7 linked regions of the Homo sapiens genome follow. The protein of the gene in region 7 purifies or fractionates together with the protein of the main gene of each other region. This does not show direct contact. Each region holds a gene or a part of one and is shown on either strand. Other genes may lie near its edges.

Region 1 (3,500 bases), on a different chromosome or scaffold from region 7:
AGATTAGAAGTCTAGTACCATTTCATTTATTCAACATTAGCATCTACCATATGCCAAACAGTGGGTTGGGTACCGGGGACACAAAAATGAACAAAGCACGGTTCCTGCTCTCCAAAAGCTCCTTGTTTAATGCAGAGAGGCTAAGCCTAAATAATAGAGGAGAAACTTGGCAGTTTGAAATATAAATTGAATTTTCCTTATCTGAACAATGCTTGGGACCAGCAATGTTAAAGATTTTGGATTTTTCTGGGTCTTGGAATATTTGAGAAAACATACCATTTGAGCAGCCCTAATCTGGAAATCCAAAATCCAAAATGTTCCAATGAGCATTTCCTTTGAGCATCATGTTGGTGCTCAGAGAGTTTCAGATTTTGGAGCATTTCAGATTTTAGCATTTTTGTATTAGGAATGCTCAACCTGCAGCATCTTGACAATGGTTAGACATGCAGTTTGGAAAAAACTGTTGGCCTATGACAGAGAAGAGAGCAGAGGCAGAGCTCACTTAGGAGAGACTGATGCTGAAGTCCTTCCCCAACACAGCCATTGAGGAGCTAGGTTAGGACTTCCCTTGCACCAGTATCATCAGCTAGTTTCCCTCCCCCTTTTTTCCCCTTTCCAGTTCTCTTTCATTTCCAGATTTATTCTCAGAATAACTATATAGGTCTTTTATGTATTCTAGGCAGGAAGCATTCAGAAAACATTAACAAGGCTTCCTTATCTTGCTTTACTGATTCTGGAAATAGCATATGGAGTTTCTTTTGTCCACCAGAGGGAGTGAGCCTTCACTTTAATGAGACTTATTTAAGACTTTAGTCCTCTGTTGGTACTACTTTGTTGGAAGACTTGAAAGGTTTACAAAGTTCTCTGAAAGTTGCCTTTTCTCGCCTTTTTTAAGGATAGAATTTAAAAAGAAAATGTGTGTATTTTATTATAAATACAGAGTCCTCATTATTCTCTTTAGACTTATTTTATGGTGAATATAGTACTCTGAAAATAATAAAATGCATTATCTGTAAAAAATTAAAAACGTAATTTTTTTAACCATCAGATTTTTAAAATTATGTTCTACTTGAAAGTTTTTGTGATTTATCTCTTTTTTTAAATTTTTTAAATTTTTTTTTTTTTTTTTTTGAGACGGAGTCTCACTCTGTGACCCAGGCTGGAGTGCAGTGGCACGATCTTGGCTCAGATCTTGGCTCACTGCAACCTCCGTCTCCCAGGTTCAAGTGATTCTCCTGCCTCAGCCTTCCAAGTAGCTGGGATTACTGTTGCCCGCCACCAAAACCAGCTAATTTTTGTATTTTTAGTAGAGAGGGGGTTTCACCATTTTGGCCAGGCTGGTCTTGAACTCCTGACCTTAAGTGATCCGCCCACCTCGGCCTCCCAAAGTGCTGGGATTACAGGTGTGAGCCATCACACCCGGCCTCTTTATTCTTAAATAGTGAATTAACCAGAATATTCTATTCTCTGGTAGGGTAAAGAGTGAATACCATAATGTGAGCACCTCAGACCTGTAGCTAGTCTTTTTTTCCCTAATTTATATCTAACTATATCTAGCCTATTTCAGAGAGCATTTGAAAGGACAATGTAAGAGCACATGCTCAATAGGATAGTTAAAAGTAACATTTGCTGGGCACGGTGGCTCACGCCTGTAATCCCAGCACTTCGGGAGGCCGAGGCGGGTGGATCACTTGAGGTCAGGAGTTTGAGACCAGCCTGACCAACATGGTCAAACCCCATCTCTATTAAAAATACAAAATCAGCTGGGTGTGGTGGCACCCGCCTGTAATCCCAGCTACTTGAGAGGCTGAGGCAGTAGAATCGCTTGAACCTGGGAGGCGGAGGTTGCAGTGAGCCGAGATCACACCATTGCACTCCAGCCTGGGCAACAAGAGCGAAACTCCGTCTCAAAAAAAAAAGTAACATTTGAGACCAGAAACTATTAACTTTCTGTTCTTCTAAATGTCATGAAAGCAATTATTTCTCTGTATTAATTTTCCTGTCAACTTAATCACTCTCTTTCTGAATTTGAACCAAAGGCTAAATATTTCAGATTAGATGGCTTTTTACCAAGAACATAATGGAAAACACATTGGCTGTCAGAAACCCTCAGAGAATGAGTAATATTGACTGACTTGGACAATGTAAAAATGTTTTTTTCCATCAAAGTCAGAATTGTGTTTCACTTTCCATTTGATGTATGTGGGTTATTTTAGTTAACCTACGTTTTTTGTTTGTTTTCAAATGAAACATGTCATGTATTTAATGTAGGACATTTAGGAGTCATAGAGTTGTATCTTATTTTAGGAGTACTATAATACAAAGAATTGATCAGAGCTGGTCAGACTGTGACAAATACAGATTAATTCTGAAATGGAAGCCTTGCATTATAACTTTTTATAGAGAATTGTACAAGCATTATAAGGATAATTAAATATATTGCCAGTGTTGCTACATGATGCTCTTAAAAGACTAAAGTGAATTTATTAGTGAGTACAAGTATATTGCAAACTGGTTTATACCTTCAAAAAGATATATTCCCTGTTCACTTTATTTCCAATAGTGTTAAAAACCACTGAGCCAGGCAAGGAAGACCATACTGTCTTCAGCATATTTAAAGCAGTTTGAAGAGTTGAAAAGAATCTAAAGGGTAGCCTTGTGGGAAAGGCTGGAAAGGTGGTTACTCCTACTTTGGTGACTTAAGAGATCATATGTAGGAGCTTATAAGCCTATGGACTAGTCTTTTTCTGATAACAGTAGTTGTAGGGCTCTTTCTTGTGGACTATCCAGTATCTTATTTTACTATAAACTTAGAATCCATGCCTAGTGGCATATTAGGCAGCCCTTTTATATTTTCATTTCAAATTCAGCAAAGTGGGCACCAACTTTATCAAAAAATTGATGGGGAGAGTTTGTTGAAGCTCAGAGTGAGGATGGATGTAGAACATTTCAAGTGCTTCATATCCAGAAAATCAGTAGTCCTCCATCTGAGTTGTAGACACAGGAAAGGAGTTGAAGATGAATGGAGTAGGAATGTAAAAGCCTTATCTTTACCCTCCTCAGCTTTAGGTCTTAACAAGAATGAGCCTCCCTTAGTCTTTCTTTATGCCCCTGTCCCTGAATGTTGGTGATGACATTGTTTTTCCTGTATTGAATACAAAAATATGGCCAGTAATTTAGGAATCAAGAGGATATAATTCGGAAGTAGACTGTTGTGTTTAGGAGTTTTTCTTTCCATTGTGGAATTGAGTAGCAGCGGTATATATGCTATGTCTGGTAAAATGGGCCATACAGTAGTCTAAGACATGAGGAGACCTTAAGGAGCTTGGACTTAGTTGAGGTGACCAGACTATTTAATCTGCTTAGGTGCCACAGCAAAATACCATAGAGTAGGTGGTTTAAACAGCAGACATTTATGATCTCATAGGTTTGCAGTCTGGAAGTCAGGGTGCCAGCGTGGTTGGTTCCCGATCAGGGCTCTCCTCCTGGATTGCCCGTGT
Region 2 (3,500 bases), on a different chromosome or scaffold from region 7:
TCTACCCTCAGGATCATAGCAGAGAGGGTACACAGGAGGTGCTCATCTCACTCATCTCTGTATCTCTAGCACTGAGGACATTGCCTGGCATACAGTAGGTGCTCAGTTTTTGTTGAGTGTGGTGGGAACAGCCAGCGAGGAGACTGACTATGATAAAAAGCAGATGTGGGAAAATGAAAGCAGGAAGCAAGGGTGAGCATTTTTCTTTCTCCAGATAGATTCAGGAATTCTGGAGGCTGCATAATAGAACCCCCTTTTGCCTATTGCCACAGCATTCCCATAGTTTTCCCTATTCCTGTAGTGTTAATTCTATGTATTTCTCTGGCAAACTAGAGATATACCAAACACCCACAGAACTCTAATTTTTCCTCCCCTGAATGGTGAGGTCTTGAGTCAAAGGTCTACATGGCTGAGGTTGAATGAGATGTGCTACCCTGAGTCTATGGTCTATGTCCTTATTCAATTCTGTGAGAGATCAAAGAAGATGTAGGCTTTGCCTTCAAGGGGCTTTCAGTCTGGTAGCAGAGATTAGACACGAACACAAATGATATAGGAAAGAATATAAAATTGCTATCAATTTTTAAAAGCTATGGAAGAACAAAGGGAAAGATTAGTATTCTAGATGATGAGATAGGGCAGGACAGGGCACAACAATCAGGGATAGCTGTAAGTGGGGCGTGACATAATCTAGTTGAAGGACTGGCAAGATTCCAATTAGCAAAAATGTGAGGAAGGCATTCCACGTGGATGGACCGGCAAAAGCAAAGGCACAGAGGTAGGCAAGTACAGACTATGTTCAGGGAATGAGTCAGCTGGAACTGAGGGTATGGTAAAATAAGTTATGCAGAAAAGACCTCAAAAGAAGGGCAGCATTAGATCAAAGAGGGGCCAGCTAAAAGGTTTGGTCTTTTTTATTACCCACCCCTATAAGCAGTGAAGAGCTAATTAAGGTTTTTGAGTACAAGAAGGACATGATCAGTGCTGGGCTGTGCTCTCCTTTGAGGATAGAATCATTTCGGTAAGTTGGCATCTATATGGTTTATGGCACTGACCTGGCTGTACGTTCCCTGGTAGAAGACAGGGTGTGCCCTCCCATATTTCTCTTCAAAAGAGTGCATAAATGAAACAATGTCCCCAACGGGGTCAGTGACCCGGCTGCGAGGGTCAGGCCGTATAAAACGAAGAGCAAACCTGGGGAGGAAGGAATAAATATCACATGAATCCAGCTTACTACAGTGCATATCGAGTGGGCCAATTTGTACAGATTCCTGTAACAGAGCCAGAGGCACGGCAACAAAGGGAGGTGAACAGTCTGTGAGTGGACCATCAAATCCGAGAGTAGAGTCTGGTTCAAAAGCCATAAAGCAGCAAGTGTTATTCTATTGCCTGTTCAGGAAGAATGCAAACTACTGGGATTATAAATTCCAACACTGGCCTACATAAATCCTGAGTATTTTTTGTAGAACAATTTAGGGCTAGAAGGGTTTGGAAGGGAAGACACAGTATCCAAAAAGATCATGTGTCAGGCTATGCACCCAGACTCTCTAGAATGGCACCGTCTAAGTACTGTAGCCACTAGTCAAATGTGGCTATTCTGAATTTAAATCTATTACATACAATTAAAATTCAGTTCCTTAGTAATGCTAGCCACATTTCAAGTGCTCAACAGCCACGTGTTTAATGGCTTTCATACTGAACAGCGGAGATACAGAACGTTTCTATCATCACAGAGAGTTCTACTGGACAGTGCTCTAGAACAGAGGTCATTTTCTGGTTGTCCTACTTGCCCCTCCTTCTCCTTTCTGTTTTCCTGGGATTTTAAATATTGAGTTCACAACCCCAAACTATTCAACTTACGGATAGGAACTTCAAATCTGAAGTTGCGGTTATGACTTACTTGCTCTTCAAAGGGGCAAGTACCTTTTGCTTGATGATTTATGGTTGATGGCAACCATGGAGGAAGTTATAAAACTGCTCCACAGTACCCTGGCAGATGTGGAGTACTGGCAGCTCTTGTAAAGTGAAGAATACATACCTAATGGTACCACACATCTGTTTCTAAAGGGCCTACCCTATTTGTATAGTACCATTTATTTATCCTTTGGGTTTCCAGAGAAGGCAACAGGACAGAGGATAATGTGTTACCTAACATTAAACAAGCTGGTTGGATGATACAGCTGCATTAAAATTAGTAATACATGCCGTGCATATTTTCCCTAGAAAAGCAAACAATATTCATTTACTTAAAACGTTTTCAGCACAGACAAGGTGATTAAACTGTGATACTTTTCCTTAACAAAAAGTGAGTCAATTCATTATCCCAACAAATTCCCCCTGTGTATACAATTCTACTTGGAATTTCTCCCGAGTAATCAAACCAAATTCATTGACAACAACGTTCCAGAGCGAATTAAAAGCACAAAATGTAGTAAGTTGTATACGTGGGGGAATGGTTAGAAATTCATCAGAAGACTGATGTTTTAACTACTTTCTTTGAAATTAAGCATTTTAGAATTCTCTCTTAAAGCCTTTATTTTTTTTTCCTCATTACACAATATTCCCACGATCTACACAATTTAGGACAATCAGCTTTTTTGATTTTTTAGAAAAAAACAGAGATGTCAACTTAGTTTTCATTATGATTTTAAAGATTTTTACATGTTCATTCTTAAATAAAATGGGGATGGAAAGAGTACTAAGCAATTAGTGATCATGAAGAATGTTGCTAAACCAAGAAAGCCATTAAGTAGACAGCCTCATAAAACACCAAGGGTCCAATATAAAAGGTACTATCTGACCCTTGTACTTATGCAGCTGCTGGACCCACAACTTCAGCCTCTGCTCCCTAGAGGCAGGGTAAAGGCTGTCCCATATTTGAAGGGAAGTACAGGGAACCTGTACTTCCAGGGAAGGCCCAGACTACATATCCCAGCTCCATCTGCTGGCCTGGATGCCCTTGAACATTTAAGTTCCCCATAAAGCCTAGACATGGCTCTGGACCAGATAACCCAAGCCTGACATGCTAAGAAGTTGTGCCCCACTCATTTTCTTTTCTTTTTCTTTTTTTTTTTTTTGAGACGGAGTCCCACTCTCTCACCCAGGCTGGAGTGCAGTGGTGCGATCTAGGCTCACTGCAAGCTCCGCCTCCCGGGTTCACGCCATTCTCCTGCCTCAGCCTCCTGAGTAGTTGGGACTACAGGCACCAGCCACCGCGCCCGGCTAATTTTTTGTATTTTTAGTAGAGACAGGGTTTCACCGTATTAGCCAGGATGGTCTTGATCTCCTGACGTTGTGATCCGCCCACCTCAGCCTCCCAAAGTGCTGGGATTACAGGCGTGAGCCACAGAGCCCGGCCAGTTGAGCCCCACTCATTTTCTGGCCTTGGACCCTCTGTAGCTTCCAATGATGAGCTCTTTTAATGGTACATGAAGGAAGCTAGAAGAAAGGTGAAGGTATGAAGCAAGTGGGTATATACATAAAAGGGTTCCAGTGTTTGCAAC
Region 3 (3,500 bases), on a different chromosome or scaffold from region 7:
TTACCAAATCAAGCAAATCATTTTAAAACACTGGTTTAAAATGTTTCTTATATCTTAAGAATAGAAAGGAAAGGAGGAAGGGAGGGAGAAAGTGAGAAAAGGAGGCAGGGAGAGAAGGAGTCCTAAAACTAATAGAAAAAGAATATCTATAATCACTGAAGAAAAATATAGCAAATATGCTGAAAAGATAAGACAGCATGCTTAGAATTTAACAAAATGGCAAGAATACATTATATTTAGACATTTAATCATTTCTCAGCCCTTCAAGTTTGTATCCATAGAAATTATTTACATACTATTCATCACCAGAATTGCAGGAAAATAAAAACCTGTAATATAGTCATGGTCCTTAACACTTTTAGAGTTCATAATCTTAATCAAAAAGCAAAACTTACTCATACAAAACAAATTAGAAAATGTGAGGGCTCCAAAATATGTGGCACAGATATTAGCTGCAAAGGCTTTCAGAGAACACCAATTTGAGTGTATCTATGGGTAGGAAAGTGGGGAATAGTAAGAGACTGTCTCTAAGAGCAAAGTGGAGCTTGAACTTAAGCCTGAAGGACAGGAGGAATTTGAAAAGTAAAATAAACAATATGTACAAATTAAGCAGGAAAATGATATTGCAACCAGCAGAAAGGAATTAGGAGTAAAGCAACCATGTAAGAAGAATTTTGCAGTTATCTATTTGTGAAAGAAAACATGATACAGAAAAGACATTTGGGGCCTGTAATCAAAGCTTTGAAGCCATGCTGATCGGGTTTCTATCCCAGCTCAACCACTTGCTGTGTGACCATGAGCAAGTTATTTAGGACACCTAGATTAGATTTTCTTAGGAACCTAGATTTTCTTATATTTACATACAGATTTATTATGCATATTAAAGAAAATACTATTGCCAGTTTATAGGTTCTCAATAAATGAAAGCTGTTCCTATTATCATTGGAGTTGTTTAATATGCTCTATATAGCATGAAATGATCAAGCCAAAAAGTATTAGCCTGGTCAACTGTGTTAACAAAAACTGTCTTTTAATAACTTGCAAATAAAACAATGATTGCATGTCCTTTTAGTATTTTACTGGAGCATTGCTAACAGCCTCACCCCAAAATAACCTCATTTACTATTTGTTAGGCCCAGACTCTGTGATGTAACTTGTTAATTTGTGGATTTTTTGTGTAATCAAGATGCATATGATTTCTGTCCAGAGAAAACTCATAAAGGATAAGATTTTATTGTTCTATAGGATATTAACTAATTTTGTCTCTAACTCTGCAAAATTATTTTAGAATAACTTTCCTATTGGACCATATAAACTGTTGTTCTAATTTTTTTTCGAACATGTTTTATCATATTGCAAGATCCTTCATTAATGAGTCAGATAGATTTCTGTCATGTTTTCACTGTATATCTGTCTGAGTCATGCCTTTAAATTTTTTAAGATGATATTTTGACAATGACTTGATTGACTAGTTGAGCCAAAAAGACATGGTTGGCTGGGTTTTCAGAATAGCTGGGCCACTGCTACATAGATAGCTACCAATTTAGTTGAAAATAAAAGAGAAAATAAAACACAGGGTGCAAAACACTTCTATTTTATTAAGTGTTGCCTGATAAATAAAAATTTTGAAAACACCAGACAAGCTGTATCTTATTTTTAATTAAAATTTACCATTACTTAAAAAGAACTTTCTATCCATAGTACTAACCAAAAAAAAATGGTAAGATGGAACACAATGATAAAGCATGTGAGAAGGGTGAAAAAGCAAAATTCATACCTTGGTTTGAAAATGAATTCTGTTTCCTTCCTTCCACATCTCAGTTTGTAGAGTTTGTCCTGGATATACTGGTTTTGCAAAACGAGCCTTTAAAAAAGAATTGTGGGGTTAAAAATGTTTTAAAAGGAAACTCTTTTACTTGTAGGAGGAAAAAATTGGAAAGGAAACTAGAGAGCACAAAAGAAAAAAAAAATCAAGGTTTAAAGATATTTAAATTCATAAAAGACCTAAGTATAATATGATAAAATTAGTAAAATAAAGATGTAACTAATATAAGTAAGCCAATTCTTTGTCTTTCAAAGTATGGAATCAAAAAATAGTGTTTTTTATCTTGACAAATCAAGAAATAAAACCATAATCATATTAGGTGAGTTATATAGGTACATCAGAACAACTTAAAGAAACAGTTAAAAGTGGTACAAATTAAGTCTAAGGAATGAGGCCTGGGGTGAGTATGCAGGGCAAAATAATTCCACTTTTTATTTCATAATTTTTTATATTATTTTCTCTGTGTATATATTACTGGATAATAAAAAATAGTTGTAACAAAATGAAAAGCATGAGAGTAATTAGTGTTATCAAAGGCAATGCATCAGAAAATATATTTTCACTACTGCATGGAGGATAAATTAAAAGCTTTTGGAGCTATTTGACAACCCCTTAAACTTTTTTAAGTGTACATCTTTTGGCTTAAACATACACAAAAATAATATGGGCATGGATATTTTTCCTTGTTATTTATAATGGATAAAAATTTGAAATCAACTAAAAAGTACAGAGTTAAAACAATATGCAGTCATTATATTGCTGTAGATGTATGTTTATTGGACTTAATCAGCCACTTAACATTTTTAATTAAATTAATGAAAATGATAAAACAGTTAAAAAAAGCAAATCTTGAGTTTTCAAGGCATACGTACTGATATATATATATATAATATATGCACCTAATTAATTTATAAAGCAACCCAGTTAATCTGTCAAAATTGCAACTGTGCATCCTTCCTGGTGCATGTGCAACAGAGCTATTTATAGCTACAAAAAGAAAGTGTGCTGATTGCCAGGTCAATGAAATAATAAAAATGTACATTGCTGTAGTACAATATCTATTTTCAATTAAATCACTAAAACCCCTTTTCTTCTCTAAAGATAGAAAAAGGAAGTAATATTCAAATTACGTAGTAATACACATTTACCTTAATTGCCTTGAATCTTGACACATCATTATCTGCAAACTGCTGTAACACACGCCTGGCAGAAAATCCAAATGTACATAATCCATGTAATATGGGCTTGTCAAAACCTAGGAAAAGAGAGAACACTGAGTTAGATACAGGTACCTTTAAAGTTTAAAAATCAAGTGTAGTTAATTCAGGACTTTAAAAATGTCCTTAGACTGCATTAGCAGGAATTATACCATCTATTTTAAGAAACACAGTAGATATTTTTTAAAGAGTATTTCCTGGGAGGAAATTATGAAATAAAGAAAGAAAGAAAAAAAAAAAACAAAACAGGAAAAGAATGTGAGAGATCTGGAAACACAATTGTTTTGTTTAGTTTTGGTTGTAACCATGAAATCATCCAGGGTACTCTCAACATCCACACAGGTACATGATCCTTCCCTAACCTTTCAGTTCCTTGCTCTCTCTCCAATGACCTTGTCCTTTGTGATAACTCACACACCCACCCTCGTGGTCCTATCCTAGACCTCGCACTAGCGGGA
Region 4 (3,500 bases), on a different chromosome or scaffold from region 7:
AGCGAGACTCTGTCTCAAAAAAAAAAAAAAAGTTTGTCAGAATAGCAATTCAATTTTATTTAACACAAATTTGTATTTTTCATAATTTTAAATATATAAGAGTAATATGGCCGGGTGCGGTGGATCACTTGAGGTCTGGAGTTTAAAACCAGCCTGGCCAACATGGTGAAACCCCATCTCCACTAAAAATACAAAAATTAGCTGACGTGGTAATGCATGCCTGTAATCCCAGCTACTTGGGAGGCTGGAGTGGGAGAATCACTTGAGCCCAGGAGGCAAACGCTGCAGTGAGCCAAGATAGCACCACTGCACTCCAGCCTGGGCAACAGAGCAAGAGTCTATCTCATAAATAAATAAGTAAAATGGATCTTGGATCTAGCTAATGGGATTGAGCTAATGTGTTTCTCATTTCAGCTCCTGGTGGACCCATGTGGAAATGGGACCTCCAGATCCCATTCTGGGAGTCACTGAAGCCTTTAAGAGGGACACCAATAGCAAAAAGATGAATCTGGGAGTTGGTGCCTACCGGGATGATAATGGAAAGCCTTACGTTCTGCCTAGCGTCCGCAAGGTGAGCTTGCTGTTCATCTCCTTTTGAATGGGATGAATAAACTGAAGAGAGCCCTGGAGAGTGGCAGGAATAGTGCTGGACCGGGAATCAGGAGCCCTGGGCTTTAGTTCTGGCACTAATGGCATGAATCACCCGGGTTTTCTGGGCTGTAGTCTCCTTGACTGTAAAGGTGAGAGGTTGGAACCACCTGTTTTTTCCCAAGATTGAACTTTCTATGGTTCTGTGATCATCTATAAAACAGACATTAAATACGCTTTAGAAATGCTTAGCTATGCCTACTTTAATCCTGAAGGTGCATAAGAGGACCAAGACTTTAAGCGCTGTCTCTTGTTGAGAGGAATAGCTCTTCGTGGATTACTATTTTTATTTTCCATTTCTCTAACTGTGATTACTTTAATCAAACCTTTGTACACAGGCATGCTCTGTCCTTTCTTCCTGCTGAGCTATGCAATTTTCACCTCTTTCTTTTGTTATATTTTTATTAGTAGCATCTTTATTTGTTAACTAAATAATATAACAAATCCCCTTAGAATAATTTTTTAAGTTATTCAGCAAGTATTTGCTACTGCAACCTGCATCACTACCAAGCACTATTGTACATTCCCTCATTCACACTTCACCTCAACACTGTGAGAGGTAGAAATAGTTCCTCCATTTAACAGAGGAGGAAACTGAGGCTCAGGAAGGCTAAATAACTTGCCTAGGGTAACACAACTTGTAAGGGACAGCCAGGCTTCCAATGCCAAAGCACGAAGATGTGTGGCTATTACTGTTAACACTTCGAAGTTCTTAGACTGGCATATAGCTTGACATGCTTTCTCTTTTGTATTTAGTTTGATTTAATCATCTTATATCTATTTTAGGTGTTGCTCTTAAACCTTGGTCTTGTGCATTCCAAGAATCTCATTTTATGTTAAATTGTAACCAAGAGAGACTATACCCATCCACATAAAACCTAACTTAAACAATAAAATACAATTTGAAAAAGAAAGTATTTCTGTTCTGCAATACAAACTATCAAGCATTCTACCTACCCTTCTTCTCAGAGAGTAACTTCAAATTTTAAAAAAAGGTTTGGCCGGGCGCAGTGGCTCATGCCTGTAATCCCAGCACTTTAGGAGGCCGAGGCAGGTGGATCACCTGAGGTCAGGAGTTCGAGACCAGCCTGGCCAACATAGTGAAACCCCGTATCTACTAAAAATACAAAATTAGCTGGGCGTGGTGGTGCACGCCTGTAATCCCAGCTACTCGGGAGGCTGAAGCAAGACAATCACTTGAACCCGGGAGGTGGAGGTTGCAGTGAGCCGAGATCACACTACTGCACTCCAGCCTGGGTGACAGAGCAAAACTCCATCTCAAAAAAAAAAGACTTTACCTCCAAAACTTAACTTATAAAACTTTAAACATTAATCATAGTAATTCCAAGTAAGGAGAAGAAATTCAATGGATGTATTTTCTCTTGTCTAGGCAGAGGCCCAGATTGCCGCAAAAAATTTGGACAAGGAATACCTGCCCATTGGGGGACTGGCTGAATTTTGCAAGGCATCTGCAGAACTAGCCCTGGGTGAGAACAGCGAAGTCTTGAAGAGTGGCCGGGTAAGCTGAGCAGGCTCTGGCATCATCCCAGGTCTGTTTTAACAAATTTGTAATTATTTAAACAATTTTAGGCCAGGCGCGATGGCTCACGCCTGTAATCCCACCACTTTGGGAGGCCAAGGCGGGTGGTTCATCTGAGGTCGGGAGTTCGAGACCAGCCTGATTAACATGGAGAAACCCCATCTCTACTAAAAATACAAAATTAGCCGGGCATGGTGACACATGCCTGTAATCCCAGCTACTCAGGAGGCTTAGGCAGGAGAATCACTTGAACCTGGAAGGCAGAGGTTGTGGTGAGCCAAGATCATGCCATTGAACTCCAGCCTGGGCAACAACAGCAGAACTCCATCTCAAAAAAAAAAAAAAAATTTAAGAAATATGAAAAGATAACTCATTTTGTGTGTAATGATTGTTTTGAGGAGGCCACACTATTTCTAATAATTCTTATTTGATAGTAAATTGCCATCATTAAATAAAATAATTTACATGACACCAATTCCAAAAATGTACTAGTAGTAATCCTGAAAATGCGGTAGTCATTTGACTGATAGATTTGATGTTACTTTTGCTGTTAGTCTCTACCTGCTTATGTTCATTTTACATCAAATATGCTTTAGAAATGTTAACTATGCCGAGTTTTAAGCCTGCAGTTAGCCCACACCCTCATGTCCTAAGCTTCCAACTTGCACAGAAGCAGCAAGCAGGAAACAAGCCATGGGTGGACTGTGGGGGCTGGACCAGTCTGGCAGCCCTCTGCTGTCCCTTCACAGCCCACATGGACACAGAAAGAAGACCACGCTCCCAACATGTGAACTCGTGCACATTGTGGTTCACTTTCTTTTGAAAAAAACATGTTTTTTAGTGAGTGCATTTGTACGTTTTTCTGGGTAAGCCTGGGGAGTGAAGAAACATACAAACTAGCAAAATTAAGTCAACATTTTTTCTGCCCTTCCCCCTCTGAAAAGCCAGAATAAATACACTTTATTTACAAGACTGGTCTAAGTCCACACATGAATTCGTTAACTCAGAGTAAAGCACACAACCTCAACCCCAGGGTTATGTAGTAATTATCCTACGTCAAATAGAATTTGGTTTAGTTCTGTCCATACAGTCAACTGCCTGTTAGCCCCTCCTGGAAATTTCTGTACTTTTTAATTCATGTGCTCTTTTGCCTAGTCTCTGCTCCATCTAAATAACAACCTAAGTATGAAACTGGCCTACCTTAAAATAACATCAGCTTGTCTTTTATAAGTTGTTGTGCCTCAGCCGGGCGCAGTGGCTCACTCCTGTAATCCCAGCACTTTCCGGGACCAAGGCGGGTGGATCACCTGAG
Region 5 (3,500 bases), on a different chromosome or scaffold from region 7:
GGAAGAGGATATTTTTAGCTCCATAATGTCTGCCTAGCTCACCACTGTATTCCCAGAGTCTAGTGTAATGCCTGGCCCAAAGCAGGAATTCAAAAAATGTTTACTGAATGAATCAATGAATAAGCAAAGACTGAGTATGGATTGTGCAGTAGGCTGTGTTACAGCCATGCTAGTGTACAGGTGGAGCAGCCTAGCATACGTGGGTTGTGCTTTTTTGTTTGCAAAGATGGTGTTACTAGCCCAGCAAAGCTGAATTGTTTAATTGAGTTAAATGTCAGTCAGTGCTGTATTACTCAGAAGCTTTGACTTCAGAACAAAGCTTTATTCCTTTCCCCTGTTGTCTATACAGAACTCAGTGTCTCCTAAAAGCAATCCAATAATAGAGTAGTAAATTTAAGAAGTATGATAAATCTCTACGGCTCCATTTTTAAAATTAGTCTTCCCAAATTATAGCACTCAACCCTGAGGAAACTATAGCAAAAATACCACCCTATAAGAAAATCACTCTTAAGATTAGAATGGGACATTTGATTTGTGCTTGATGGCAGGACAATGGGCTTTTCCTTTTGTTTTCTTTTTAAGAATTTCATTAAGATTGTTATTATGTGCAATATATTTTTAATATGACAAAATATTGAGTTACTATTTCAGGATAGTGGGATGATTATCCTCATATGATTTTCATACTTCTTTTTTCTACTATTCTATATTTAAATTTTTTTCTGTATAAATTATAGAAACATAAACTTCAGTAAAAAATTTATAAAAGCAAAATATGACTGGGTGCAATGGCTCACACCTGTAATCCTAGCACTTTGGGAGGCCGAGGTTGGCGGATTGCCTGAGCTCAGGAGTTCGAGACCACCCCGGGCAACACGGTGAAACCTCGTCTCTACTAAAATACAAAAATTTAGCCGGGCATGGTGGCACATGCCTGTAGTCCCAGCTACTTGGGAGGCTGAGGCAGGAGAATCGCTTGAACCTGGGAGGCGAGATCACACCACTGCACTCCAGCCTGGGCGACAAAGTGAGACTCCATCTCAAAAAAAAAAAAAAAAAATGCCACCTAGTCATAGTTATTGTATCCTCCATGTTCCCATTGCATTTTTGCATTTCTAGTATAGCACTTTCATTTTAATGCTTTATGTACCAAGGTCTGTCTTACCCATATCCTGTACTTATATACTGAGACATGACTTGTAAATTCAAGGTCACTGGAAGTCATGGGAAAGGTGAGTGTCCAGCTTGCCTTCTAGCTTTGCAAAGGGAAGTGCTATTCATCCACTATGCTTTAGGCTCTTTGGGAACAGAGATTTTATCTCATACCCCTAACTCTTAGCACAGTGCTTTACATGTGAAAAGAAATTGTTGTAATAAATATTAATAGATGTACCTAAAGAAGCTGAGAAACAATAGATGCAACACTTTTCTTCTAACACTAACAAACTTATAAGTTTGATTTGTTCTGCTGCATAGTCCAAAATGATTTAATTCATTTTCTAGTGCTCTGCAGATCTCTTCCATTATATTAAAGTTTAACTCCTTAAGTCATCCATTCAGTCCTTAAACAAACATTCATTGAAAATTTACTATGTGTCATATGCATCGTTAGCTGCTGGAGCTACAAAGACAGATAAGACAGTTTTGCCCTGGAGATGCTCATTATATGGGTGGGAGGCACTTATAAACAAACACTGGTAGTACAGCTTGTTAGTTCAATGATTGAGATATGCACATAAAACAATGAAGCTGGCCAAAAAATCTATTTTTGTATTTTGGGGTTTACAGGAGAAGTCTCCCAGAGGAGGAGGCCCCTGAGCTGAGTGTCAAAGAGCTGGCAATGAATTAGTCAGGCAAAGCATATTCCTGACAGAAGTGCAATGTGAATAAAGGGACAAAGGCAAGAATAGCACAGTGCACCACAGAGTTCAGCATTGCTGGAGGGTAAAGCTGTGGCAGGGAGTGGTGAGCGATGAGGCTGGAGGGGAGGGCAAGAAGCAGGTCATGAGTGCATTGCTGGCTGCCTTACCAGCTTAGCCTCTCTCCCGTAGGCAGCGGGGAGCTGCTGAAGGGTTTTAAGCAGTGACATTACTGGAGATTATTTTAGTGGCACTAGAGAGAACGAATTTGAGGGAGACAAAAATGTGAAAAAGTGTAACTTCTTAGGAGGCATTTGCATAAATGAGTAATAGACTTGTGTTTATATTTAATAATCATAGCTAACATCTACTTAGTACTTACATGACAGGTAGTAAGTAAGCATAATGCGATAGTCTTAATATTTCACACAATCTTATGAGTAAATATTAGTATTATTTTCATTTTACAGCTAATGAAACAGACATAAACAGTTAAGTAATTTGCCCAGGGCCAGTATCAACCCAGGCATTCTAGTAAGTCTTATGTTCTTTTTTTGAGACAGGGTCTCATTCTGTTGCCACTGGAGTTCAGTGGCATGATCTTGGCTTACTGCAACCTCCCTGCCTCAGCCTCCTGAGTAACTGGAATTACAGGTGTGCACCATTACTGCCCGGCTAATTTTTGTATTTTTAGTAGAGACGGGGTTTCACTGTGTTGGCCAGGCTGGTCTCTAACTCCTGACCTCAAATGATCCACCTGTCTCGGCCTCCCAAAGTGCTCGGATTACAGGAGTGAGCTACCACGCCTGGCCAAATCTTATGTTCTTAATCACTATCCTGTTCGTTTAATTTCTGTTTCCTGTATTAGAGTGAAGCTCTATAGAGACAAGGACTATGTTGATGATGTTCTCCACTGTGCCAACACAACTATTTGTTGAATAAAATCAGTGAATAACCTAAGTGGAACAAATAGTGGATTAAATTATGTACAGATTTAAGAAATCGTCATGCACTGCTTAACTATGGAGACACTCTCTGAGAAATTCATTGCTAGGCAATTTCATGATTGTGTGAACATCATAGAATGTAGTCACACAAAACCTAGAGGATATAGTGTACTACACACATAGGCTATATGTTATAATCTATTGCTCCTAGGCTACAAACCTGTAGAGCATGTTACTGTGCCAAATACTGTAGGTAATTGTAACACAATGGTAAGTATTTGCGTATCTAAACATAGTAAAGGTAATGTGTTGCCTTAGGACGATGTTAGGTGTTATGACTGCTAGGACATCACTAGGTGACAGGAATTTTCCAGCTCCAATGTAATCTTATGGGATCACCATCATACATGCAGTCCATCATTGACCAAAATGACATGACTGCAGTTGGATGCAATATTGGCATCCAATTATTTGGCCAGCTTTGGTGATTGTTATGGACTGAATGTTTGTCTTCCCACAAAATTCATATGTTGAAGCCCTAACGACACCCAGAGAGGCCTCTAAGGAAGTATAGTAGTTAAGATTAAATGATGGCATAAGGGTGGGCCCTAATCCAACAGGATTGATGTCTTTCTAAGAAGAGAGGACCAGAGCCTCTTGCTGTCTGTGGACAGGCACTGAGGAAAGGCCATGG
Region 6 (3,500 bases), on a different chromosome or scaffold from region 7:
TATATTTATCCTTCATTGATCTAAGAATACCTTGGCCACATGGCTGAATTAATGGAGTCACATTTGGGGAAAAGTACATGGCATAAACATGATTTTTGATGAGATGTCAGCTGGAGGATGAACAGAAAAGTTGTCAAGGTATAACAAAATATTTCAGTCATCATCCAGCCCAGCTTCCCTGCAGTGAGCACAAGCCACAGGTCCAAAATGTTTGTGAGACCAATCAGAAAAGATATCCCTAGTTAAACATGCCTTTTTGTTAGCATAATAATGGTCTGGTAAGAAATTCGCTGCTTGAAAACAGCAAGGACACAAACTTTTGCCTGTCATGCAAGTTTACGCTTATGCATGCCTGCTGCATTAGCACATCCCAGCAAAGTTGTTCTGCCCTTGATGTCCTCAGTTCCTGGAGGGGCTGTCTCATTAGCTGTAGTTGTGTCTTTCTGGAGCAATAAAACCAAAACAGTGATGTTCCATCAGCATTATAGACTTGTTCTGGCATCAGATTTTTGTCAGCAATGACCTTGGCAAACTCACCAATGAATTTCTTTGCTGCTTCATGATGCTTTGTCACCACATTAAAAAATTTGGTTTCATGTTTTTTCTTAAATTTCTGCAGCCAACATGTTGAATATTCATAGTTCCTTTTCATTTTCAGTTCCTCATCCTGATAGATCCTTGCTTGTTTCCTGACCCACATAGCATTAAGTGGCAGGTGTTCACTGCAACACCAAGGGATCCATCCTCGGTACATGATCAGGATCTTCATTTTTAGCTTTATGCAGTGTTTCTCTATTTTTCATTAATTTCTGTTTATCACTTTTAGCACAGAACTTCAACAGTTTATCCTTCTGTTTCTTCAGATCCTATATGGTGGTCACTCCAACACCATACTCTCCTGTAAGACGTTTCACACTTACACTGCTCTCCACTTTCTCCAACAGCTTGACTTTCTGTGCTATAGATAAACATAAATCTTTTTCTTATCACTGTTACCCAGAGGGTATCTGCACACCTTTTAGATATTTTAACAACATTTTTATAACACAGAGCAGAAAGTAAGCAAAAAAGCACAGTGAGTGACGCACGTGGGTTTTGGCCCCATGCAGGTCATTGTGGGGAACCTGCCCACTGGCATGTGCTTGCGTGGGGGAGTCGGGGCATGTGCAGAAAAGGCATGTCACAGCTGAAGGAGGGTGAGAGGGTCTCTTTTCCCTTGGAGACACTGAATAAACTACATGTTGTGGCCTGCATTTTGACTGCAGCCCATCACATGAGGTCAGGTGTGGAACTTGCCATTTGTACTGCCATGTTGGTACTCAAAAAGTTTCAAATTCTGGAGCATTTTCGATTTTGAATTTTCAGATTAGGAATGCTTAACGTGTGTTTTGCTTACCTGACTGCACGTCTGCGCAGGCCTCAATTTCGTCTTTCTGTAATTTGAGCACAGGAGTTGATGCTTCACATGCCGAGTAAGCTTTCCCAGGAGAGACCGTAATGAGATGTGTGGGGACTGGGCGTGCTGGGCTTCTCTGAGCAGAGGAATAGTGAGAGCCACAGCAGTAATTGTTAGTGTCCACCAAAGAGCCCTACAGACAACTGTTCTCTGTGCTGCTAGTTTTTGCTCCAGTTCTTACTGTCTATATGGTGAACCTCTGAAACTACATAAAGAAAGGACAGCAGGGGCCACTTGGCTAACTTGCACGGCTGTGAGCACTGCACTGCACCCCTCCACTGGGGAGTATTGGGTAAGCACCCATCGGAACACCTATCCCCTGACCCTTCTCGTCCTTGCTGGCTGGTTGTCATCGCATACCCAAGCCCAAGCATGCAGTTTCAGTTTGCCATGGATGTTTAGTTTTGGACACTATGGGAAACCTTCAGGTGCCCTTTCTTAGTGTAATTGTTTATTCTTTTTAAAGAACTGTGCTAACATTATTGCTACTTAGCAATAGTTTTTAATCTGGTGAAAATAACAGGTCAGTGGGCAGTGAAAGTTCTCCTGTCACACTTGTCTTCTCACCCATAAAAATCACTTAAAGCTCTGAAGCCAGCTTTGGCTAAAGGGGCATGATCTGCCCCGCAGAGGATGAAGAGCGAGCCCGCTGCAAGCTGTGACAGCAGACGCTCTCTTCTGCCAAGACCTGTGAAAAGCCAGTCTTAGTTGTCAAAACCAGCACCGCGGCACATGTCGTTCATGTCTGAGAGAATGAACTCAGAAGGAAGTCTCGTGTACATAGAAAGCTTTCGTTCTTACTCTAGGATGTCACCTACGTGACTTACAACCCAGCCCAGCCATCCCAGACCTAAGGGGTTCTTCCCTCTCCAGGGCAGGGCCTGCATGCAGTCCATGCTGCTGCCCTGTGTTGGTGACCTGTGTGTAGCCAGCCCATTATCAGCATCCTGTGGATTCCAAACCAAATGTATCATCAGTGGAGGGAGAGCTCAAGTGCCAGGTGGAGCTGTGGCCTAAAGTCACACTTCATCACTCCAGATTATGAATCGTCATTTGCCAGATCTCCAAATTGCTGAGTGTGGACAGCAAATGGATTCGTTTGTGCTGGCTGGGTGCAAAGAAGCAGCCAGTCCTCAGCTGCACTTGAAGTACTACAGGTAGTAGTAAAGGTAGCTTTTCCAAGCCGTTTAAATAAACGTCATTAAGAGTGGCCAAGTTGTTTGGGGGCCATGGCATCATGGTGGTGGATAGTAGGTGGAAGGAAGGCAGGCCAGCTCCCGTTTGGCCTGAGTTATCTCCACCAATGACAATGGTCCTTAACTGGAGGGAACATCATACAGGTTATTTCCACCCAAGATTGGAAAGACCACCTTGATCAGAGAGAGTTTTCCTTCCACATGACACATATCCAGCCTGAGTCCTCCAGCCCCTCTCCCTGCACAACCTGATGGAGGCTTGAGAAAGCACAGGGAGGAACACTTAGCTTGAAAATGTTCCTAAGGAAAAGGAAAGTGTGAATTCTGAGAACCAAGTGGCAGAATTGAAGTTTCACATCTGGCAAAAGCTTAAACAGATTATTATCAAATAGATGGTTTGTGAACGTTGAAAAGACAGCTGTGGTCTAGGACACCAAACCAATCCTGTTGGCAAGAGATCACCAAGACCTTTGACAACATCTCATCAGCTTATGAGAGATGTTGGTGACATGCAGAATGGATAATGATAGTGCAATGAAGTGGGTTTGAAACTGATTAAAAATGTTGATTAACCCCTTGAACACAGAGTTCTGGGCTCTTTGACCTGACGTGTTTGACATTTTCATCAATAATAACTTGAACAAAGTTGTAGAGGTTTACTAATCAAATTTAGGCATGATACAAGTTTGAGGGAGATGATTAACAGTAGATAACAAAATGAGAATTGAAAATAATTCATTTTGGTTGACTGGAAAATGATCAGATGGAATTTAACAGAGATATGTAGAGTCCTAGACTTAAAAGGTCAGGTAGGATTTGAGAGACCTGACTTGACAGCATTTTATGTG
Region 7 (3,500 bases):
TTCAGAGATTCCTGACTAAGGGGAAGCTTAGCCCACCCTCTCTGGTCCCTGCCTTCTTACCTGGATGAGGGCCATGTTCCCAGTGATCATCCGCCAGAGCTCCTTGGGTGTGTCCATGTGTCCAATGTTGGCCTGGGAAAGGGAGGGCAAGGGGCTGGAGCTTCAGGCTGGAAAAGGCCTGAAGCTCCATCCATTAGGCTCCTGCCTAGATCATGAGGCAGTACATGTGGCCTAAGACTCTGAGAGCAGGACCTGACAGTCCCGGAAAGGTGAAGCAGGATCAGGGAAACTGAGGTGAAAGGGAAGGAGCTAAAGCTGGGCTCCTGCAGCTGGGTGGGGGGTTGGAAGGGGGTCCCCTAGGCAGTCGCCTCTCTTCCTCTCAGGACACCAGCTGAGCAGAGGCAAATTCTATCCTTTGCCCTGCTTATCTGGGCAGCCCATTCCTGCATGGGTCAGAACAACCCAGTCCCTGACTCTGAAGCCAGCCTGCGATCCCAGGGAAGGAAAGGTCAGCTGCTGGTGCAGGACTGAGGCTCCAAGAGTATTTGGGAAGGAGTGGGTGGCATGGGCCAGAAGTCGGGTATGGCAAGTCAGGGTGGGTTAACTTGGATGCCACTTCTGTCTGTCACCTTCTCTAGACTCTTGACCCTGCAGGGAGATCCCTGGCCTCCTGAGTTTTATCATCTCCCACCTCCAGCCCAGGGCCCTGTATCTGTTCAGGCCCGGAATCGTCACGGCTCACAACTGTGGGAGGTAGGAATGACGAGCAGCTCCTCTCTGTCTGTTTCCTTAAAGAAGAGCAAGCTGCCATGGGTAAAGGGAATGGGATGGCCGGGGGGCTGGGGGTGCTGGGAGGGCCTGGCTCTGCTCCCGCCCAGCTGCAAAGCAGGGGCTGGAGATCAGAGGAGGCCCCCATCTGTGCGGGTGGAGGAACCAGCATGATGCCTGCCTGTCAAAGCTGCACAAACAGTCACGAGGTGGTTGAGAGGTAGGGGGTGGGGCAGGAGTCCAGGGGTGGCTGGGACATCCAGAAACCAAGCCTGGGAACCACTTTGGGCAGGGAGCCCCTGCCCAGGAGCAGGACACCCAGCCTGGGATCTCCCTACACCTGCCCAGCCAGGCCCTCCCTTCCCACCCCAGCCCCACACTCCAGGCCTGGGCAGTGGAGAAGGGCTCGTAGCCCTCTCCCAGTCTCTGGCTCTGTGCTGCCCAGAGTCCTCTCTGTGCCCCACTCCTCCCAGCCAGGATACTCACTGCAGTGGAAAGCCTTGATGCCAGGGTCATTTCCAGGTTCCCTTTGAGCCCCAGCAGCGCAGGCACTAGGATGAAGACCTCTGTCACCTTCTGGAAGACTTCCCAGTGCTACGAGGTGAAAACAGAACCCAGGAATTTCAGTGCCCCAAAGGGCGGGCATTGAGGTTCAACAGGTAGTCTGAGATCAGGGGCTCGAGGAGGAAATAGAATCAGCAGGGAGTGAGCACGCCAGCCACCTTTCCTCCAAGAACCTTGGAACCAAACCAAGCCCATGATTCTTCAAACAACACAACCCCCCTTCCTGCCACCCAGAACCAGGGAGATGGAGAGGGTTTCTGCCGGTTGGGAGACTCTCAGTCTGGCCCTACCTTTTCTGTTTTCCTGGAGGTGGGTGGGGAAGGGTAATGGGGACCCACACAGCTGAGCTGCCCTGGGCTGCCTGACACCCCAGAAATCCTTTGCAATCCCCCCTCAAATTGCAATCCCTGGCCCCTTTGCCTTCAGTCCAGTTTCTCTGTTGTCTCAGCTGTGAAGAGTTGGGCTCCACAGGGCTGGGGCCGAGGCTGGGGAGATTAGAGAGTTTGTTTGGTTTCTATCTCCAAGGGCTTTGGGCCTCAGCCACAGCAACTCTCCTTCTGAACAGGCTCTGAATTAAGACTGTGGCCCCTAAACCTCTGAATGCTGGCCTGCAAGAGGCTTTTTATTTCTCTGTGCACTGCCTTACCCCCACACACCTTCCTCAATCTCTCAGCTAGGAGAAGCAAGTGTACTCCTGTAGGAAGAGCCCTGGACCGGGAGTCAGGAGACCTGAGTTCTAGTCCCAAGACAATCAATCCTGGCTCTCCTACCAATGTCTTTGGTTAACATCTATTAAGGACTGATTGTGTGCTAGGCTAAGTGCTCTCCATGTATTTTCTCTTTTAATCATCTTAACAACCCAGTAAGGTAGGGGCTATTTTTATTCTCATTTTGTGAATGAGTAAACTGGGGTTCAGACAGTATTCCACTAGTTAGTGCTAAGAGGACTGCAGGAACCAGGACTGGCTATTTGAAAGCTACTTTACTTGCAATTGAAACTGAGGACTTGCAAAAAGGTTTAGGATTGTGTCTCCCTCCCTGGCCCTAACAGGGTAGGTGGTTTCTTTTATTTGTTTTAAGAATGGAAAGCCTCCAGGTTTGGAGAGGGAGGAGGAGGCAGGAGGCCAGGCGGATATATATGGGTTGGTCTGCGTATCATGGCTGGGAGGCCAAGCACTATGTTTGGCAAGGGCACTGGACCAAGAGCCTTGGGTCTCCTACAGGAGACAGCAGGGATGGCCCCCTGCTTATCTCCCCAGTACACCTCCTCACGTAGACCGGCTGGACACCTTAGACAAGTTACAAGGGCCTCAAGCTCTTGAAAAATGTTCAATTCAGGGACCAGATCAGATGGTCTTTCAAGGCAATTCCAACACCCACACTCTGTCGTTAAAGATGAGCAGTGGCCGAGCGCAGCGGCTCACACCTATAATCCCAGCACTTTGGGAGGCCGAGGCGGGCAGATCACCTGAGGCCAGGAGTTTGAGACCAGCCTGACCAACATGGAGAAACCCCGTCTCTACTGAAAATACAAAAATTAGCTGGTCGTGGTGGCACATGCTTGTAATCCCAAGCTACTCGGGAGGCTGAGGCAGGAGAATCGCTTGAACCCAAGAGGTGGAGGTTGCAGTGAGCCAAGATCGCACCACTGCACTCCAGCCTGGGCAATAAGAGTGAAACTCTGTCTCAAAAATAAAATAAAATAAAATAAAATAAAATAAAATAAAATAAAATAAAATAGATAAAATAAAGTTGAGCAATACTGTAGATTAGTAAGAGATCACCTCACACTCATTAGGATGGTTACTATTTAAAAACCCAGAAAATAATCAGTGTTAGCAAGGATGTAGAGTTTGGGCTGGGCATAGTGGCTCATGCCTGTAATCCCAGCACTTTGGGAGGCCAAGGAAAGTGGATCACTTGAGGTCAGGAGTTGGAGACCAGCCTGGCAAACATAGTGAAACCCTGTTTCTACTAAAAATACAAAAATTAGCCGGGAATGGTGGCGCACACCTGTAATCCCAGCTACTGGGGAGGCTGAGGCAGAAGAATTGCTTGAACTTGGGAGTTGGAGGTTGCAGTGAGCCGAGACAGTGCCACTGCACTCCAGCCTGGGTGACAGAGCAAGACTCCGTCTCAAGAAAAGAAAAAAGCATGTGGAGATTGGA

The links.
Region 1: the proteins of SLC41A1 (region 7) and HMGCS1 purify together in Homo sapiens (affinity purification with mass spectrometry; one large-scale study listed by BioGRID and IntAct). This does not show direct contact.
Region 2: the proteins of SLC41A1 (region 7) and FAF2 purify together in Homo sapiens (affinity purification with mass spectrometry; one large-scale study listed by BioGRID and IntAct). This does not show direct contact.
Region 3: the proteins of SLC41A1 (region 7) and HSD17B4 purify together in Homo sapiens (affinity purification with mass spectrometry; one large-scale study listed by BioGRID and IntAct). This does not show direct contact.
Region 4: the proteins of SLC41A1 (region 7) and GOT2 purify together in Homo sapiens (affinity purification with mass spectrometry; one large-scale study listed by BioGRID and IntAct). This does not show direct contact.
Region 5: the proteins of SLC41A1 (region 7) and CNNM1 purify together in Homo sapiens (affinity purification with mass spectrometry; one large-scale study listed by BioGRID and IntAct). This does not show direct contact.
Region 6: the proteins of SLC41A1 (region 7) and UBAC2 purify together in Homo sapiens (affinity purification with mass spectrometry; one large-scale study listed by BioGRID and IntAct). This does not show direct contact.

The regions. Positions count from the first base shown.
Region 1 is NC_000005.10:43,303,413-43,306,912, reverse strand, and holds part of HMGCS1 (hydroxymethylglutaryl-CoA synthase, cytoplasmic), read left to right. Parts: intron 1-3,500. UniProt on the Homo sapiens protein: Catalyzes the condensation of acetyl-CoA with acetoacetyl-CoA to form HMG-CoA, which is converted by HMG-CoA reductase (HMGCR) into mevalonate, a precursor for cholesterol synthesis.
Region 2 is NC_000005.10:176,489,885-176,493,384, reverse strand, and holds part of FAF2 (FAS-associated factor 2), read right to left. Parts: intron 1,192-3,500; coding exon 1,053-1,191; intron 1-1,052. UniProt on the Homo sapiens protein: Plays an important role in endoplasmic reticulum-associated degradation (ERAD) that mediates ubiquitin-dependent degradation of misfolded endoplasmic reticulum proteins.
Region 3 is NC_000005.10:119,525,497-119,528,996, reverse strand, and holds part of HSD17B4 (peroxisomal multifunctional enzyme type 2), read right to left. Parts: intron 3,081-3,500; coding exon 2,974-3,080; intron 1,865-2,973; coding exon 1,778-1,864; intron 1-1,777. UniProt on the Homo sapiens protein: Bifunctional enzyme acting on the peroxisomal fatty acid beta-oxidation pathway.
Region 4 is NC_000016.10:58,720,817-58,724,316, reverse strand, and holds part of GOT2 (aspartate aminotransferase, mitochondrial isoform 1 precursor), read left to right. Parts: intron 1-414; coding exon 415-571; intron 572-2,038; coding exon 2,039-2,167; intron 2,168-3,500. UniProt on the Homo sapiens protein: Catalyzes the irreversible transamination of the L-tryptophan metabolite L-kynurenine to form kynurenic acid (KA). As a member of the malate-aspartate shuttle, it has a key role in the intracellular NAD(H) redox balance.
Region 5 is NC_000010.11:99,335,856-99,339,355, reverse strand, and holds part of CNNM1 (metal transporter CNNM1), read right to left. Parts: intron 1-3,500. UniProt on the Homo sapiens protein: Probable metal transporter.
Region 6 is NC_000013.11:99,378,854-99,382,353, forward strand, and holds part of UBAC2 (ubiquitin-associated domain-containing protein 2 isoform 1 precursor), read left to right. Parts: intron 1-3,500. UniProt on the Homo sapiens protein: Restricts trafficking of FAF2 from the endoplasmic reticulum to lipid droplets.
Region 7 is NC_000001.11:205,799,699-205,803,198, forward strand, and holds part of SLC41A1 (solute carrier family 41 member 1), read right to left. Parts: intron 1,363-3,500; coding exon 1,255-1,362; intron 133-1,254; coding exon 61-132; intron 1-60. UniProt on the Homo sapiens protein: Na(+)/Mg(2+) ion exchanger that acts as a predominant Mg(2+) efflux system at the plasma membrane.